Regions from separate parts of the Homo sapiens genome. Here all the other regions are linked to region 2. The links come from fine-mapping of genetic effects on gene expression. A gene starts in region 2. Each other region holds a variant in brackets. All regions are shown on one strand. Distances are between the middles of the regions. Region 1 overlaps PRR5-ARHGAP8 (PRR5-ARHGAP8 readthrough). Region 2 holds the start of ARHGAP8 (Rho GTPase activating protein 8). Region 3 overlaps PRR5-ARHGAP8 (PRR5-ARHGAP8 readthrough). Region 4 overlaps PRR5-ARHGAP8 (PRR5-ARHGAP8 readthrough).

The links. PIP is the estimated chance that this variant, and not a neighbour inherited with it, causes the effect. A credible set is the group of variants that fine-mapping cannot tell apart.
Region 1: its variant is the best candidate, but not a certain one, in a credible set for the expression of ARHGAP8 in spleen (GTEx, PIP 0.76).
Region 3: its variant is the best candidate, but not a certain one, in a credible set for the expression of ARHGAP8 in whole blood (TOPMed, PIP 0.60).
Region 4: its variant is the best candidate, but not a certain one, in a credible set for the expression of ARHGAP8 in pancreas (GTEx, PIP 0.80).

Annotation. Positions count from the first base shown.
Region 1 is chr22:44,858,928-44,863,808 of GRCh38, reverse strand. It overlaps PRR5-ARHGAP8 (PRR5-ARHGAP8 readthrough), which reads right to left. Exons shown (of 15, transcript NM_181334.6): 14 at 3,975-4,078; 15 at 1,025-1,534. The coding sequence ends at 1,214. ARHGAP8 (Rho GTPase activating protein 8) reads right to left here. Exons shown (of 12, transcript NM_181335.3): 11 at 3,975-4,078; 12 at 1,025-1,534. The coding sequence ends at 1,214. LOC105373062 (a long non-coding RNA gene) reads left to right here. Exons shown (of 4, transcript XR_938302.3): 2 at 188-358; 3 at 598-821; 4 at 4,326-4,353. Among named protein-coding and RNA genes, the nearest start is that of ARHGAP8, 110 kb to the right of the region's middle. RefSeq lists enhancers at 1-236, 3,761-4,455. The variant C/G (reference allele first, on the strand shown) is at 2,072.
Region 2 is chr22:44,750,014-44,754,894 of GRCh38, reverse strand. ARHGAP8 (Rho GTPase activating protein 8) reads right to left here and starts at 2,320. Exons shown (of 12, transcript NM_181335.3): 1 at 2,268-2,320. All of the region lies in intron 4 of PRR5-ARHGAP8 (PRR5-ARHGAP8 readthrough), which reads right to left.
Region 3 is chr22:44,783,897-44,788,319 of GRCh38, reverse strand. PRR5-ARHGAP8 (PRR5-ARHGAP8 readthrough) reads right to left here. Exons shown (of 15, transcript NM_181334.6): 5 at 1,714-1,863. ARHGAP8 (Rho GTPase activating protein 8) reads right to left here. Exons shown (of 12, transcript NM_181335.3): 2 at 1,714-1,863. The coding sequence starts at 1,792. Among named protein-coding and RNA genes, the nearest start is that of ARHGAP8, 34 kb to the right of the region's middle. RefSeq lists enhancers at 1,351-1,891, 1,892-2,432. The variant AGAT/T (reference allele first, on the strand shown) is at 1,876.
Region 4 is chr22:44,850,140-44,855,020 of GRCh38, reverse strand. The region is part of intron 13 of PRR5-ARHGAP8 (PRR5-ARHGAP8 readthrough); the gene reads right to left. The region is part of intron 10 of ARHGAP8 (Rho GTPase activating protein 8); the gene reads right to left. Among named protein-coding and RNA genes, the nearest start is that of ARHGAP8, 100 kb to the right of the region's middle. The variant T/C (reference allele first, on the strand shown) is at 2,660.

The DNA.
Region 1 (4,881 bases), 110 kb before region 2:
GAGACCGCACCCTCTAAGTTTCAGAGGAGAGCCCTGGGTGTGGGTTTGGCCTGGGGCTGCCAGTGATTCCCCCAAGCATCCTAACGCGTACCGGGGGTCCCGGCACAACTCGGTCAACACCCCAAGCAGGCACGGAGGGGCCACCATGGGGGATCTGTAGAGGGGACTTTTGTCCTTTGCTCCCCAGAACCTCCCCCGCTTCTCCCTGCATCAAGAGCTGGGGAGACGGCAGCGTGGGACTCGTGGGTAATCCCCTGCAGCGGCCTGCCACTCCTCCCCCACTGCCTGGTCTGGGTGGGGCACAAGACTCAGGCCTAAGCCAATCAGAGCCTTCCCTGGCTGCAGCAATGGGTCTAAGGTGAGCATGTGACCTAGGCTTGTCCAATCAGGGTGAACCTGGGGCTTTTTTGCTGGGACTGTGGCACTAAGAAGTTGTATCCTTCTCTACCATATCTGATGGAAATACAGGGCCCGTTTTGCCAGCCCAAGAGTCAGCCTGCCTGAGACTGCAGAGTCCTGTCGCACCCCAGAGCCCTCGGGCAGCTTGGCTGCTTTATGCCCAATTCTTCACCCTCCCCATATCCACCCCCTTTGCAGGGCCCTCCCTCTGTGACCCTGGCCTTGGCCACCAGGCTTGCTTTGGCCAATGAGATGTGAGCATACAGGACGCCAGTCAAAGCATGAAAACTGCTTGCAATAGCGCTTGTGTGTGCACCTGGACCTATGTTGTAAGAATGTGCCCCGTTTGGCCATTGGAAGGACTTGGGACACCTGGGGGAGAACAGAGTCACCCCAGCTGCCAGCCAGCTCAGCCAGGACATGTAAGTGACCCCCTCAAAAGACCAATAGAACCACCCAGCTGACCCACTGACTCCTGGGCAGTAACTTTCAGTGACTGGGCTTAGGTGGTGTGTTACACAGCAGTGTGGCAGCAGCAGGACCTGGCAGCCGTTAGCCACTCCATTCCTGTTTTCAGTTAAACCACATTGGGTTGGGATTCAAAACATCCATCCTAACAAATGCATTATTCTATCCCGGTCCACAGCTCAGGAACCATGGACAAGAGTCCAAGGACCAGAGGCATGGAGTTTTCATTAGAAGGTTCTGAATTCATCTAATGGCTGGTTATTTTTACAGATGCCAAGTTTACAAAACATACAAGTGCACAGACAGGTGTGGGAGGTAGCTCGAAATATACAGAGTGTTCGCAACACTAGAGACGTCTTCTGGCTGCCATCAGGGGACTCGGAGGTAGGGTAGGCTTGGTGAGGCCCGTGGCTTGTGTCCGTGGCACAGCCTCCTGCAAAGGGGCTGCCCTGCTCCCCTGTTCCCATGGTGCCAGGCCGTGCTCCCCAGGTGCCTCCGGGGTGCTGAAGATCTTTTCATAGTACTCGATCAGCAGTTCAGTGAACATGTTCAGGGGCACAAGGGCACTCAGGGAGGAGACCCCCTGGGATGGCCAGATCAAATTCAGCCCGAAGACACAGGCCAGGTTAGAGCTGTTCATTTTGTTGAAGATGCTCTCCCGGGACACCTGGAGGAAACCACACACAAGTAAAGGGGAGTGAACACCAAGGGGCACGGGCACCTGGAACTCCCTCCCGAACTTAGGGAGAGGCGTAGGTGTAGTGAGAGGAGCACTGGACTGGGAGCCGGCAGCCAGTAATGGGGACCCTGTGCAGCCACCTGCCCACTCAGGGCCTTAGTTACCCTATCTCTAAAAGGAAGGCTTGGCCTCCATGTCCTGGAGGACCCTCTGGCTCTGACCTTCTGTGACAGCCTCAACCCCCCACTATCTCCTCTTCCACTGCACCTTCTGGGGAGATGCAATCTTGGGGATGGGCTGTAGCACAGACGGTACGAACTTGGTGACCTCTCTGGCCTCGGCTCTGTGAGTGGCGAACTGGGCATGATGGGGACCAGCCAGCACATCTAGGGGCCACTACGAGGGGCAGGGAGAGTGGAAAGAGCTTGCCTGCTAGAAGGGGCTCCTTGTCCATCTCCGCCAACACGTGCAACCCCAGCACGGGGGAGTCATTACTCCCCATCTTACAGATGAGGAATCTGGGGC[C/G]TGGAAGGTACAGGAGACTTGCCCAAGGTCATGTGGCCAGCCAGTGGCAGGGGGCCATGTGGACCAACGTGAGGGCAGGGCCTGTTCTCTGCTCCTTGCCTCCCTACAAGATTCAAGCTGGGGGGAACCTCAGTCAGAAACAGGGGTCATGAGGCGGTGAGTACCAGGGCAGAGCAGAGAACTGGAGGGAGGCAGGGCCAGGCACCACCCTCACAGATCTGTTGAGGATGCTCAGGTGAGATGGCTGGATGCCTTTCAGGCTCCCCCTGGCTGCCGGTCCCCCAAGCCCGTTGCAGGTGTGCACCAGCCAGGCCCACTGCAGGCCACCCCTCCTCAAGCCGAGGCCCCCAGGTGCCACTGGGGTGATAACACGCAACACCACACCCCACCAGGTGCATTCACATCGGTGCCCATGGAGGTGGCGGCTAGAGAGAGAAATCAGTCTCTCCTAATGAAAAAGAAGTAGGCTGGGTGCAGTGGCTCACACCTGTAATCCCAGCACTCTTAAGAGGCCGAGGCAGGTGGATCACCTGAGGTCAGGAGTTCAAGATCAGCCTGGCCAATGTGACGAAACCCCATCTCTACTAAAAAAACAAAAATTAGCCGGGCATGGTGGTTCTCACCTGTAATCCCAGCTACGTGGGAGGCTGGGGTTGCAGTGAGCTGAGATTGCACCAGTGCACACCAGCTAGGGCAACAGAGCAAGACTGTCTCAAAAAATTTTTTTGAGAGAATTAGGAGAGTTTAGTTTTGGGCCTCTGAGAAATTATGTCAAGCAACAGGGAGAAAAAAAATTGTTGTAAAACCAAGAAGTGACATTCTCCAACAGACTCTGGGATGTGACGCCTACTCTGCTCAGGCTCTCCTCACCCTGCACAGCCTGGGGCGAAGGCCTGGAGAGATGGAGGGGGTTAAACATTCAAGGCCGTGGGTCTGGGGGTTGGGGGTGGACCCACGTGGATGTGTTGAACCTTCCCCTGTTGGCTGCACAGGTTTTTGCTCCAAATGGATCCCTGCCCCAGGGGGAGAGCACACTAAGCCCAGGCCCAGAGCACTGAAGGGTTTCTCTCTCTCTGGTCATTTGCTTAGCCTGGTGTGTAGTAGATTGAATGGTGGCCCCTCTAAGATAGACCACAGAGAATCTGACTGTGACCTTATTTGGAACGAGGGCCGTTGCAGCTGTCGTTGAGGATCTCAAGATGAGATCATCCCGCGTCATCTGGGTGGGTCCTAAACCCAGTGACATATGGCAGGGGGTCCACACTTAGGAGGGAAAGGTGGAGGGAGATTAGACACACACACAGACAAAGGCCAGGGGGGAGCTGGAGGCATAGCTGGAGTGACCAGGAGCTGGGAGAGGCCAGGAAGGGGAACCTTCCCTAGAGCCTCTGGAAGGAGCACAGCCCGCCACACCTTGCTTTTGGACTGCTAGCCTCTAGAAGAGTGACACAGTAAATCTGTTTTAAGGCACCCACGATGCAGTCACAGGAACTTAATGTACGTGGTTCTGGGTGTATCCCTTCCCCAGGAATGGTCAGCTCAGTCCACTGGGCTCTGTACCAGTGGTGGACACAGCTCCCACCTCCTAGAGACTCAGCCCAAGCAGGAAATGACATGGGGGCAGAGGACCCCAATAACAAAAGTCACTGGCAATGGCTGAGGGACAGCAGGTACAGGAGCAGGCAGGGGCAGGTACGCCCTGTCTGACAGGCAGGAGGTCCGCAGCAGCATGGGTGCCTGACCAGGCCTTGGATGAGGTCCTTGGGGGGCAGGGAGTGGTATTCCGAGGCCCAAGCAGGGCATGACCCCAGACCCAGGGCAAGGAGGGGACTGGTCCATGCGGGCCCAGCATGGGAGGGAAGGCCACTGGGCTTCACCCCAAGCTCCCCCCTTCCCCACTCACCGCATGCAGGAAGCCCATGAGGTAGCGGAGGACGACGTAGTTGTGCTCTGGGAGGCTCCGTAAGATCTGGCGGCAGCCAGTGACACGCAGGCTGCTCTCCACACCTGGAAGGGCATGGGGCTCCCTGCTGAGCTCCAGAGGGGCCAGGGGCAGCGCTGCATCCCGGCCCGGGAGGAGAACAGGGGTGTAGGAAGGACAGCTCTGAGGATGGACTATCCCACATTTGGGCTTGGGACCCCCACTTATCTTCTGGCCGTATGGCTCTGCTCAGCAAACCTGTGTGTTTGGCTATTCTTGCTGAGATGGGGTTATTTATAAGAAAAGAGGTTTAACTGGCTCATGGTTCTACAGGCTGTACAAGCATGGCACCAGCACCTGTTCAGCTTCTGGAGAAGCCTCAGGAGGCTTCCAATTATGGCAGAAGGCAAAAAGGAAGGAGGTGCATCACGTGGCAAAAACAGGAGCAAGAGAGAGTGGGACAGAGGTGCCACATGCTTTTAAACCAGATCTGGTAAGAACTCACTATCTCGAGGACAGCACCAACCCATGAGGTATCTGCCCTCATGATCCAATCACCTGCCACCAGTCCCCACCTCCAAAGTTTCAATTCAACATGAGACGCGCTGGGGACTCAGATCCAAGCCCTATCATCACCTGAATTCTACAAGCTCCATCCCTCTGCTTTATCAGCCAGCAGCACCACCTTCCAGGAAGCTGCTAAAGCCGAATCACTTTATAAATGGGAGTGGTCTAGACCAGGGGTTGGCAAACTACGGCCCATGGCTTAGATCTGGCCCACTGCCTGTTTTTGCCAATAACGTTTTCTTGGAACACAGCCACGGACATTTTGTACATTGCCTGTGGCTGCTTTTGCCTCATCAGGGCAGAGCTGAGTAGTTGCAACAGA
Region 2 (4,881 bases):
CAGTGAAATGAGGGTAAAATCAGGGAATGGGATGGGTTTTTTTTAATGTGGTGAAACATACTGTCAGGCACCTCCAGGACCTGAGTTCCTTGCTCTCGTCTCTTTAACCGAAGCCGCCTTTAACTCCATCGTTTACAGTGTGCCCATGAATAGCTCAGCCTAGAACTGGCTTGTTAGGCAGATGGCATGATGTCCCAGGCATGTTTAAGTCAAGTAAGTTTCAATGACTCGGCCGGGTGTGGTGGCTCATGCCTGTAATCCCAGCACTCCAAGCACTTTGGAAGGCCAAGGCAGACAAATCGTCTGAGGTCAGGAGTTTGAGACCAGCCTGCCTAACATGGTGAAACCCCACTTCTACTAAAAATACAAAAATTAGCTGGGTGTGGTGGTGGGCGCCTGTAATCCTAGCTACTCTGGATGCTGAGGCACGAGAAGCACTTGAACCAAGGAGGCAGAGGTTGCAGTGAGCTGAGATCGTGCCATTGCACTCCAGCCTGGGCGACAAGAGCGAAAACTGCGTCACACACACACACACACACACACACACACACACACAAAGTTTCAATGACCCAATGATGTTATCCAAGTAAATTGGCCCACCCCGTCAGGCACTCCATGGACTTTTCCACCCGTACCTCACAAGCGAAGTATCCCTAGCCAGTAGGTGCCATTCTCTTCCCCATCCACCTCCCATCCACCTTCCAGCTCAATGGCCACCTCCTCCAGGAAGCCCTTCCTAAGCTCCCACAAACCCTTGGATTCTCTCTACACAGAAGCCAGACTCTGGGCCCCTGAGGGCAGGGACCAGGCAGCTGGCTGTCCACAAGAATCAGCTGGGCTCAGGCCCACATCCCATGTCCCTCTTCGCCCTACCCCCAACTCTGGCGTTGGTTTGGGGAATGGTTAGTCAGTGAATCGAATGAGGAGTCCACAAACATGATCCTAAAGCTGCCAACAGAGAGGCCAACCAAAGGACATCGACTTCTGAAACGGCTGAGTCTTAAGCATTGAGTTCTCAGCTGGACAAATGCCAACACTGCATTTCACAGGCAAGCGAGGGACGGCACAGAGCTCTCTGGAATCTACACAGCCTCTGTCACAAAACCCTGAAGTCGGTGGCCAAGGTGCTGTCCCCATCCCGCCAAACAATCCCACCCTCCTTCCCGGGTGGACTCTGCGGTTCCTTCTCCGGGGCCTTCACACTCCTCCCAAGGCAGCGGAGAAATTTCCAAGTCAGGGTGTGGCAGAGCCCGAGGGATTCTCAGGAGCCCCCCCACCCCCCACAGGATTGAGGGAAAGTGAAAGGCAGGGCCTCCCTGCCTTCCTGACGACCTCCGAGGCTGCTAGCGGATTGGTTTAAACTTTGGGCTTTTAGGCCGGGCGCGGTGTCTCACGACTGTAATCCCAGCACTTTGGGAGGCCCAGGAAGACGGATCACCTGAGGTCAGGTGGTCGAGACCAGCCTGGACAACATGGTGAAACCCTGTCTGTACTAAAAATACAAAAAATTAGCTGGCATGGTGTCAGTCCCTGTAATCCCAGCTACTCGGGAGGCTGAGGCACAAGAATCGCTTGAACCCAGGAGGCGGAGGTTGCAGTGAGCAGAGATGCAACACTGCAATCCAGCCTGGGGACAGAGCAAGACTCGGTGTCAAAAAAAAAAAAAAAAGTTTCTGCTTTTAACTCCCGGGGGGTTCCACCGCTGTGTGTTGAACCGGCCAGCCCCCCACCCCCTGAGTTTGAATCAGCGCAGCACCTGCCCCGGCCTCCGTTTTCTCATCTATGAAACGGGAATGACCTCACCCACCTTGTAGGTTTGGGGTGTGTGGGGGCGGGGGAGGTGCCTCCCCCAGGCGCTGACCCGACCTAACCTGAGACCCCAGGACGGAAGCAAAAAAGGAACATTTGAGCTGACACCGTCCGGCCAGACCAGACCAAAACGCAGGCTGAGAGAGGCGAGGGCGGGGAAGGCGGTGCGGGGTGAGAAGGAACAGGACAGGGGAAAAAGCAGAGGAGGGGAGTGTGGGGGGGCGGGAAAGAAAGGAGGTGAAGGGAGAGGGAGTCTAGAACCCACAGGGGACCCGGAGGCTGCGCGCCGGCCGGAGGGTCTCCCCCCGGCCGCACGTGGCGTCGCGCCCGCCTGGGCGTCCCTACCCGGCCAGCGGCCCCTTGTCCCCGTACACGCCCTGGGAGCCCCCGCGGCGCACCCCCCCACCCCGAGCACGGCCTCCTCCCTGCGCGCTCCCTCCCGCCGCCGCCCGCCTTACCTGGCCACGGACCCCGCCGGCCCCCACCTGCGTGCCGGGTCTGCCGCTCACCTGGCCCCTCCCCGGACGTGGCTCCCGGGCAGGCCCCGCCCCCCCGCCCCTCCGCCCAGCCCCGCCCCTCCGCCCCTGCTACCCGGCGGGAGCCATTTCCCAGGTGCACGAGCTGACCCTGGGTCCACCTGTGTGTCGGGGGGACAGGGCGGGGTCGGGCGGAGCACACGCGCTCAGGAGCCCCTCGCACATCGCACCCTGGGCACCCCGATTCCCGGCTGGGCCGCGTCCCCGTCCCGCACGGCACCCATGCCTGGGGCGGGCACTTTCTTGCTGATCCATTTCCCCATTTCTTATTTTATTTATTCATTATTTTACTTTATGTATGTATGTATTTATTTATTTATTTTGAGACGGAGTCTCGCGCTGTCGCCCAGGCTGGAGTGCAGTGGCGCGATCTCGGCTTACTGCAGCTTCAACCTCCCGAGTTCAAGCGATCCTCCCACCTCAGCCTTCATAGTAGATGGGATTACAGACGTGCGCCGCCAAGCCCGGCTAAGTTTTGTATTTTTAGTGGAGACCGGGTTTCACCATGTTGGCCAGGCTGGTCTCGAACTCCCAACCTCAAACGATCCTCCCGCCTCCACCTCCCAAAGTGTTGAAATTACAGGCGTGAGCCACTGCGCCGGGCCCCATTTTTAATTTTACTTTTTTGAGACAGGGGTCTCGCTCTGTTCAGGCTGGAGTGCAGTGTCTTGAACTTGGTTCACTGCAGCCTCTACCTCCTGGATTCAGGCGATCCTCCGGCCTCAGCTTCCCGAGTAGCTGGGACCGCAGGTGTGCACCACCATACCCAGCTAATTTTTGTAGTTTTTGTAGAGACAGGAGTCTTGCCATGTTGTCCAGGCTGGTCTGGAACTCCTGGGCTCAAGTGATCCACCCTCCTCAGCCTCTCAAAGTGTTGGGATTACGTGCCTGAGCTACTGCACCTGGCCCCTTTCGTTAGGGGTGTACAAAGCGTGGCAGAACTGGGAGAATTGGAGGGACTTGAGAGGAAATTTTCCCTAGGGTTTGTTGAAGGATTTGTATCTGAGGAAAGCAGCTTAGATACAACAAAATATATCAGGCCCAGAGAAACAGTAGTATAGGACTTCAGTCCAGGTCCCCCTGCAGTGCTTGGGGGGCCATAGTTTTTTGTTTGTTTGTTTGTTTTTTGTTTTTGTTTTTAGAGTCTTGCTTTGTTACCCAGGCTGAGAGTGCAATGGCGCGATCTCAGCTCACTGCAACCTCCACCTCCTGGGTTCAGGCAATTCTCCTGCCTCAGCCTCCCAAGTAGCTGGGATTACAGGGGCCTGCCACCATGTCCAGCTAATTTTTTGTATTTTTGGTAGAGACGGGGTTTCACCATGTTTGCCAGGCTAGTCTTGAACTCCTGACCTCAAGTGATCCACTCACCTCGGCCTCCCAAAGTGCTGGGATTACAGGCATGAGCTACCGCACCCGGCCGTGGGGGCCATGGTTTAAAGGCATTTTGTTCCTGACTCACTGCCTCACCCATTATCTGCATGTTCCTGCAACTTGTGATACAGAGAAAAATGTGTAGCCAATCAACAACTTATTATTTTTATTTTTATTTTAGATTCAAGGGGTACATGTGCAGGTTTGTTAGGGGATATATTGGGTGACACTGAGGTTTGGTTTTCTGTTGATCTCCTTACCCAGGTAGTGAGCACAGTACCCAATAGGAAGTTTTTCAGCCCTTGCCCTACTCCCCCCACCCTTCTGGAGTCCCCAATGTCTTTTGTTCCCATCTTTATATCTGTGGGTACCCAAGGTTTAGCTCCCCCTTAGAAGTGAGACATGTCATATTTGGTTTTCTGTTTCTGCATGAATTCACTTAGGATAATGGCTTCCAGCTGCATCTATGTTGCTGCAAAGGACAAGATTTCATTCTTTTTCATGACTGCATAGTATTCCATGTTGGAAATGTACCACATTTTCTTTATCCAATCCACTATTGATGGGCACCTCAGTTGACCCCATATCTAACCTATAGTGAATAGTGCTGCTATGCACATATGAGTGCAGATGGCTTTTTGGTAGAAAGATTTCTTTTCTTTTGGGTGTGTACCCACTAACGGGATTGCTGGGTTGAAGGGTAGTTCTATTTTAAGTTCTTTGAGAAATCTCCAAGCTGCTTTCCACAGTGGCTGAACTAATTTACATTCCCACCAACAGTGTATAAGTATTCCCCATTCTTTGCAGCCTTGCCAATATCTCCTATTTTTTGACTTTTTAATAACAGCCATTCTGTCCAAAATCAAGATGCTGGCAGAAAAAATAATAATAATAATAGCCATTGACTGATGTGAAATGGTTTCTCCTCGTGGTTTTGATTTGCATTTCTCTGATGATTAGTGATGTTGGGCATTTTTTCATGTTTGTTGGCTGCTTGTATGCGTGTATGTCTTCTTTTGAGAAGTGTCTGTTCATGTCTTTTGTTCTTTGTTTTTTTTGAGACAGAGTCTTGCCCTGTCACCTAGGCTGGAGTGCAGTGGCGCCATCTCGGCTCACTGCAACCTCCTCCCCTGGGTTCAAGCAATTCTCCTGCCTCAGCCTCCCA
Region 3 (4,423 bases), 34 kb before region 2:
TGGCAAAACCCTGTCTCTACTAAAAACACAAAAATTAGCTGGGTGTGGTGGCAGGCGCCTGTAATCCCAGCTACTTGGGAGGCTGAGACAGGAGAATCACTTGAACACGGGAGGTGGAGTTTAGAGTAAGCCAAGACCGTGCCATTGCACTCCAGTCTGGGTGACAAAATGAAACTCCATCTCAAAATAACAATAATAAAATAATAATAATAATAATAATAACATATAATAAAAATTTTAAACACTATATAAATTAAAAATATATATTTCCTGCCTTCCTTCTGTTGGCACCTGGCCAGGGGATCTGCATTCCTCACACTCGGTCCAGTGTTCCCTCTACCTAAATCCTAGAAGTTTTCTTAAAAGGACATTTGGGGGGAAAAAAAAAAAAAAAAAAAAAGGACATTTGGGGCTTCAAATGACTGAGTGCCTGTCAAGTCCTGCCCTCTTGCTGTCCCTCCTGTACACAGTGTGCACTAAAGTGTTTATCATGTTTCTGGGGTCTTTAACTGTTTGAGAACTGGCCTCTTTTTATTATTACCTTGACAAGATTCCAGGCCCCTCAGAGATGACAGCTAATGATTATGGAGCTCAGTGCAGGGGACATCAACGTGAGGGTTGGACTCACTGCCCATGGGAGAAATGCATGCTCAGACCTAAATTAAAGCAATGCAAGGCCGGGCACGGTGGCTCACGCCTATAATCCCAGCATTCTGGGAGACCGAGACAGGTGGATCACTTGAGGTCAGGAGTTCAAGACCAGCCTGACCAAAATGGCGAAACCCCGTCTCTACTAAAAATACAAAAATTAGCTGAGTGTGGGGGTGAGCGCCTGTAATCCCAGCTACTTGGGAGGCTGAGGAGGAGAATCTCTTGAACCCGGGAGGCAGAGGTTGCTGTGAGCTGGGATCGTACTACTGCACTCCAGCCTGGGCGACAGAGCGAAACCCTGTCTCAAACAAAACAAAACAAAACAAAACAAAACAAAACAAAACAAAGCAACGCAAGATGTTTTCCTCTGACCAACTGCTGGGCACGGAGTTGTTTGTTGTCTACGTTTTTGCAGATGTTTGTTGCTTTGGATGAGACATAACAGTGCCCTTGATTAATAAAACAATTCATTAAATTTCAGCCTCTGCTCTTTAAAGCCTAGCAGGACACTGCCCGTTGGCTTCTCGGAGCACCTGGGCAATGCTTTGACAAGTGTGTAATTTATTTCTCCAAACACACTAGCAGGCCCTCCTTTTCCAATTAGTTTTACTTCTTTCTTTTTTTTTTTTTTGTTTTTTTGAGACAGGGTCTCACCACTCTGTCACTCTGTCACCCAGGCTGGAGTGCAGTGGTGTGATCTTGGCTCACTGTGCAACCTCTGCCTCCCGGGCTGAAGCAATCTTCCCACCTCAGCCCCGCAAGTAGCTGGGAATACAGGCATGCAACACCATGCTCGGCTGATTTTTGTATTTTTTTTGTAGAGATGGGGTCTCACTACATTGCCCAGGCTGGTCTCGAATTCGTGGGCTGAAGCAATCTGCCCACTTTGGCCTCACAAAGTGCTAGGATTAAAGGTATGAGCCACTGCACCTGGCTCTAATTAGATTTCAATCTTGCCCAGCTGCAGTGAGGCAGCCCCTGACGAGCCCACTTTGCCTCAAAGTTGCCGAGAGGAAGGCTGCTCTGCCCATGGTCCTGCAGACTGCCCAGCTGGGGCCCTACCTGCCACCTGCAGAATGCCATGTCTGGCCACGTCGTAGAACGGGTGACTCGTGCTCAGCGCAGGATCCTGGCCAGCCATGGGCACCACCGAGGGCCTCTTCCTCACTGCACCCAGCACAGCAGCCGCCGCCGCCTTGTCTCTCTGCAGCTCTGCGGCAAAGA[AGAT/T]TAAAGGAAGTCAGTGCATTCTCCAGTAAGGCGGGGAATGAGGGAGCCTCCTGATGCCTTTCATAAGACAGTCACCCACCTCTGCTGCACACCCACTACGCGCCCTACCTCAGCCGTGCACCCACTACGCGCCCTGCCTCAGCCGAGCACCCACTAGGCGCCCTGCCTCAGCCGAGCACCCAGTACGCGCCCTCCCTCAGCCGAGCACCCATTATACACTCTACATCAGTCGAGCACCCACTATACGCCCTACCTCAGCCGAGCACCCATTATGCACTCGACATCAGCCGAGCACCCACTATGCGACCTACCTCAGCCATGCACCCACTGTGTACTCTACCTCGGTTGTACACCAAGTGCCCATCCAGTGTCCAGCACCATGGAGGGAGAAAAATAAGACCTAAGGGTCAGATACTGTCCACATTGACAGGGGTGGCAACTAAGGCTCAGAGAGGGAGAGTGACTTGCTAACTGGCAGCAAGGTGTGGACTTAACCTTGAACCTCCAGCTCCAAATTCTGAGCCAGGCCTCCATGAAAGACCCTGACACTGGCAGCCAGCAGGAAGCCAGTGCTGCCGAAAGCACCAAGGTGGGCTGGGGTTGAGGGCAGGCACTGGGGTCACTGCCATATGAGGAAGAAAGAAAAGGCTGCCCTCCTAAGTTGAATCTTAGCAGGGGAGGTTCTCATGCAAAACCAATCAGGGTTCTTAGAGAAATGTTTTCAGCTGCAAAAAAGAACAGGAATTTTGAATTTCAAGGTTAGAGCAGATGTAGGATCCCAGGTGTAGGGGGTTGAAGACTATCCCCTCCCCACCCCAGTATTCCTCCTGGAGCTCGGAATGTGACCTTATTTGGAAGTCGGGTCTTTGGAGATGTAAGTAGTTAAGATGTGGTCAACTGGATCAAGGTGGGCCCTGAATCCAATGACTCAGGAGATACAAGGGGAGGGTGTGTGAGGACGGAGTCACAGACTAGTGTGATGCGGCCGCAAGCCAAGGGACACCAGGAACCACCAGAAGATGCAAAAAAGACCCTCCCCTGGAGCCTTCGGGAAAGTGCAGCTCTGCAGACACCTTGACTTTGGACTGGTGGCCTCCAGAACTGAGACAGTGACCTGTTGTCTTAAGCCGCCAGGTTGTGGCACTTTGCTGGCGGCCCGAGGAGATGGGTAGATTCAGGTCCCATGGAGTTAGGAGGCCTAGGGCATGACGAGGCTGGTGAGGGTGCCCGAGGAGAAAGCACTGGCTTTTCTAACAATTTCTGGAGGTGATTCTGATGCAAAGTCAGGTTTGAGATTCACTCATCCAGACCAACACCCCATCGAGGAGGGAGCGTGAGGCGGGGCCTGAGGGCTGCCTCACATGGGCTGGAAGCTGCTTCCCACACCTCCCTGCCCACTCAGTCCCGGTCTACCCCAGTCCTTGGGGTGTTTACCTGGTATTTACTCAGCACCACTCTGTGCAGGAATGGGGCGGGGGATGGGGCCAAGGCCCCTGTTCATCAACAGGTGTGAGGGTCCCAGGGTGGGGTGAGTAGGGGGTGCCACAGGACACCCCTCCTTCCAGTCAGTCAACAAATATGCATTGAGTACCTACTATGTGCCAAGAACACTTTCCGGCAGTGAGGACCCAGCAGCCACACAGGCAAAGCCCCTGCGTCGGGCAGAACAGAGGCCTCCCAGTGAGGTCCACATCCCGCTCCCTGGACCCTGTGCATGTGACTGTCTGTGGCAAAAGCGATTCTGCAGAGGGGATTAAGTTAAGGATCCTGAGATGAGTGGGTTATCGTGGATTATCCAGTTGGGCCCAAAGTACAGTTGTCTCTCAGTATCCTGGAGGGATTGGTTCCAGGACCCCCCAGGGATACCAAAATCTTTGGAAGCTCAAATCCCTGATAGAAAATGGCATAGTGTTTGCAAGGAACCTACACACATTCTCCCGTATTGTTCAAATCACCTCTAGATTACTTATAATACCAAATACAATGTAAATGCTATGTAAGGAATTTTTATACTGTTTGTTGTTGTTTTGTTTTGTTTGAGACCGAGTCTCACTCCCTCGCCCAGGCTGGAGTGCAGTGGCATGATCTCTGCTCACTGCAACCTCCACCACCTGGATTCAAGCAATTCTCCTGCCTCAGCCTCCTGAGTAGCTGGAATTACAGGCATGCACCACCACGCTCAGCTAATTTTTGTCTTTTTAGTAGAGACAGGGTTTCACCATGTTGGCCAGACTGGTCTCGAACCCCTGGCCTCAAGTGATCTGCCTTCCTTGACCTCCCAAAGTGCTGGGATTACAGGTGTGAGTCACCGTGGCTGGCAGTGTACTTTTTTTTTATTTTTAATTTGCATGGTTTTATTGTGGTATTAAGATTTTTGCATTGCTTTTATTATTGTATTTTTTATGTATTATGTTATGAAGTATTTTTGATTTGCAGCTGGTTGCATCCTTGGATACAGAACCCGTGGGTGCAGAGGTTGAGTATAATTGCAGGGGGTCCTTACAAGAATGAGGCAGGAAGGGCTGAGTCAAGGAAGCAGCCATGA
Region 4 (4,881 bases), 100 kb before region 2:
TTTCAAGTTCTTGTGACTTGAGTAACTCTGACAAGATTAGTCTGATATTGTTAGTTTATTAAAAACAGCTGTATAGGTTGGGCACGGTGGCTCACGCCTGTAATCCCAGCACTTCGGGAGGCCAAGGCGGGCAGATCACCTGAGGTCAGGAGCTCAAGACAAGCCTGGCCAACATGGCAACATGGTGAAACCCCGTCTCTACAACAATACAAAAATCAGCCAGGCAAGATGGCCGGTGCCTGTAATCCCAGCTACTCGGGAGGCTGAGGTGGGAGAATTGCTTGAACCCAGGAGCCAGAGGTTGCAGTGAGCTGAGATGGTGCCATTGCACTCCAGCCTGGGCAACAGAGCGAGACTCCATCTCAACACAAAAACAAAACAAAAAAACCAGCTGCATCTTCTGAGTTACCCATATTAAGTATAATCCAAGCATACATCTTTATGTAGTTGGGCTTACTAGTGAAGTAGGGTTAAAAATGCATAACAAGGGCCTGGCATGGTGGCTCATGCCTATAATCCCAGCACTTTAGGAGGTTGAGGTGGGTGGATCATTTGAGGTCAGGAGTTCAAGACTAGCCTGGGCAACATGGTGAAGCCCGTCTCTACTAAAAATACAATTAGCTGGGTGTGGCGGCGCACACCTGTAATCCCAGCTACTCCGGAGGCTGAGGCAGATGGATCACTTGAGCCCAGGAGGCAGAAGTTGTAATGAGCCAAGATCAGGCCACTGCACTCCAACCTGGGCAACAAAGCAAGACTCCGTCTCAAAAAAAAAAAAAAAAAGATACAAGGGGAATTCCTTGAAATGACAACTAGCCTTATTCAGTGTTATGTATGACGTTACAGTGAGTAAGCAAGGCCGCTTCCTGGCAGGCCCAGGAAACTTAAAATATATTGAGAACCTTGAGAAGAGAGGAATTCTCTCAAATCTACAGATACTGCAGGCAAAGTCTGATGGTTTTTTTTTTTTTTTTTTTTTTTTTTTTTTTTTTTTTTGAGACAGAGTCTCGCTGTGTCCCAGGCTGGAGTGCAATGGTGAGATCTCAGCTCACTGCAACCTCTGCCTCCCGGGTTCAAGCGATCCTCCTGCCTCAGCCTCCCGAGTAGCTGGGATTACAGGTGCATGCCACCATGCCTGGCTAATTCTGTATTTTTAGTAGAGATGGGATTTCTCCATGTTGGTCAGACTGGTCTCAAACTCCCAACCTCAGGTGATCCACCCGCCTTGGTCTCCCAAAGTGCTAGGATTACAGGCGTGAACCACCGCAGCTGGCCCTGATGGCAAATTTTTAACTTGGCTTTCTAGCCTCAAGAGGCTTTTAAAAAGTGAATCTGAGATTCCTTATTAAAAGTTCTAGCAAGGTAGACTTAAAAAGAGCCGACATAGGTCAATTCCCATTCTTGCTGCCCTTATGTAAATAATCAGGCCAAATTCTAATGAAACCAGACTTATTTTGTAACTGAGAATCAAGAGAGAAGCAACGGTACAGAGAAATGATGCTCCCGTGGAAAACTACGGCGCACGCTTGCGGGTTCTCAGTTCCTCTCCTTTCCTCCAATATCTGGCTACGACGCTCCAAGCTAACATTTCCAGTTTTCTCCTACCCCCTGAGTTGGCATGACAAAGAACTAAAACCTGCCATTTCCCCAAAGCCCCAAAAGCTGACGCTGGAAGACTTGATATAAACTTCAGAGAAATCACAGCAGATGATGTACGGATAGTCCTTGTGCCTCCTACTCAGTCTGCTCAGAAAGTTCACCGGAACACCCAGTGCCATCACCAAAGACATCTAAATTGCAAACTATGGAATTCACTGGCCAGCTGCTGCCACTCTCTCTCTACCATGAAAGGATACTTCAAGCCAACATCTAGGAATCTTCTCAACTAAATGTTCTCCTGACTAAAAAAATGGAGTTTAGGCCGGACACGGTGGCTCATGCCTGTAATCCCAGCACTTTGGGAGGCTGAGGTGGGCGGATCACAAGGTCAGGAGATTGAGACCATCCTGGCTGACACAGTGAAATGCTGTCTCTACTAAAAATACAAAAAATTAGCCAGGCGTGGTGACACGGGCCTGTCGTCCCAGCTACTCGGCAGGCTGGGGCAGGAGAAAGGCTTGAACCTGGGAGGTGGAGGTTGCACTGAGCCGAGATCGTGCCACTGCACTCCAGCCTGAGTGAGAGTGAGACTTCACCTCAAAAACAAAACAAACAAACAAAAAACAAAATAAAAAAAATCCCCGGAACTTATGGTTTGTTCAAACCACTGAACTTCATGTTTGTTGACAAAGAAAGGCCCCTTATTAACAGGCTGACTTAGGTAGTCACCCTACTCCCACCTCCACCGCTACCTCCTGAATTGAGACACAACTCTTTCCCTGGAGTGACCTAGTCACAGCACTGAGAGAAGGATTCATGCAACATGAGACAATCTACCAACTCAGTTTCTGGACTGTAAAACTTCCTGGGGAAAGTTCCAGATGGGGGAATGCTGGGGTCCGGAACACTACTGTCCCAAATATGGAGCCTGGGCATGCTGAATATGTTATTGAGCTGAAGGAATCTAAGAAAGGCAGGTGTGGGAAGGGCTCTCTCTGACTCCCCCTACTTCTGTGTAGCAGATCATAAAACCTTCTAATGGGAGGGGGTCTTCCCTATG[T/C]CCAGAGGGTGCCTTATCTCTAAAGACGGCGGAATGACAAAAGGAATTGAAGCTCCATGACTTTCCACTCTTCACCAAACCTAGTATCAAAACATTCGGGCTGAACCATGTCTTCACCTTCCTTCACCTTCCTTCCTCCCTTCCTTTTTTTTTTTTTTTTTTTTTTTTTTTTGACAAAGTCTCACTCTGTCGCCCAGGCTGGAGTGCAGCAGTGCGATCTCGGCTCACTACAACCTCTGCCTCCTGGGTTCAAAGCAGTTCTCGTGCCTCAGCCTCCTGAGTAGCTAGGATTACAGGTGTCCACCACCACGCCCAGCTAATTTTTGTATTTTTAGTGGAGACGGGGTTTCACCATGTTGGCCAGGCTGATCTCAAACTCCTGACCTCAGGTGATCCACCCACCTTGGCTTCCCGAAGTGCTGAGTTTACAGGAGTGAGCCACTGCACCCGGCCCATTTTCTTTATTTCTTTTCTTTCTTGCTTGCTTTCCTCCCTCCCTCCCTCCATCATTCCTTCTGTTTTGGGGACATGGTCTTGCTCTTTTGTCCAGGCTGGAGTACAGTGGTGTGATCATGGCTCACTGTAGCCTCCAACTCCCAGGCTCAGGTGATCTCCCACCTCAGCCTCCTGAGCAGCTGGGACTACAGGCATACACTACCAAGCCCAGCCAATTTTTAAAATCTTTTGTAGAGATGGGGTCTCACTATGTTTCCCAGGCTGGACTCAAACTCTTGGACTCAAACTCTTGGACTCAAGTGATCTTTCTGCCTTGGCCTCCCAAAGTGCTGGGATTACAGGCATGAGCCACCATGCCCAGCCTGGGTCTTCATTTTCTTCATTTTCATAAAGGTTCCCATGTCAGGTGGAGGTTGCAGTGTGCCGAGATTATGCCACGGCACTCCAGCCTGGGCGACAGAGCGAGACACTGTCTCAAAAATTAAATAAATAAATAAATAAATAAATAAATATTTAAAAGGCTCCTGTGTCATGTAAAACTTACATTAAATAAACTGGCATGCTTTTCTCGTGTGAATCTGTCTTTTGTCAGAATAACAAGTTACAGGGTTCCCACCAATGAACCTAAGACGGGTAGCAGGAAAGGATTTTTTCCTTCCCAACAGAGGGTTGCTTAATATGACTACGCTCTCCAGGTTTGTTAATTGGTGCCTATCCGGAAGTGGACAAATGTCTGGTATCTTTATGACCGGAGGCAGTGGTGCAAGCCAGAGCTGGGTCCTTCCCTCCCCGGGGACTGGGAGGCAGAGGTAGCACTTTGAATGTTTTCATTTCAAAGAGATGGCTCTCAGGTCCTTGACATAGCTCTGGGTGGTAGATGATTTTCATCTCAAAGGACAGATAAAGGATTCATAATTGCAAGCTTTTTTTTTTTTTTTTTTTGAGATGGAGTCTTGTTCTGTCACCTAGGCTGCAGTGCAATGGCACGATCCTGGCTCACTACAACCTCTGCCTCCTGGGTTCAAGTCATTCTCCTGCCTCAGCCTCCTGAGTAGCTGGGATTACAGGCGTGCACCACCACGCTTGGCTAATTTTTGTATTTTAGTAGAGACAGGGTTTTGCCATGTTGACCAGGCTGGTCTTGAACTCCTATGACAAGTGATCCACCCAACTCAGCCTCTCAAAGTGCTGGGATTACAGGTGTGAGCCACCATGCCTGGCCCACAATTGCAAGCTTTCTAAAGGAACTGCTGCTCAAAGAGGGGTTCCAGGGCCTATCTCCCTGTCACCAGGTTTTGGCTGGAACAAACAGTAAGTTCGCCTGGCAGCATTGAGTTTTCTCAAGCAGGAACCTACAGAGGCTGGAGTCATCATCCCTCTGCAGGGGCTAATGAAGTTGGGAGGCTTCTGGAAGCTTCTCTCTAGGACACAGCCTGGCGCATTCAGGTGATGGAGCATTGTCCATCTTGCCTGCTCTGGCCCCGGCTGGTAGGATGCTGCTGAATGTAGTGCCTCCTTCTGTCTCCACCAGATAGGTACCTCTATGCGCATGATCAAATTTGTCTCCATGAGGCTCAGCCTGGCTCTGAACTCTCCCAGGCTTCCCATCCACTAGCCAAAGTCAGTCAGCCCTCAACATCTTTCATGGTCTTCCAGGGTGTAGGAGAGACCTTCCCCATCTCAGAAAGGGCGTTGCATTTGGCAGGCGCTTAGGAGCACTGCTGAGTAAATGGGTGTAAATTTGCCTTTGAGGGGAGTTTGGGGTC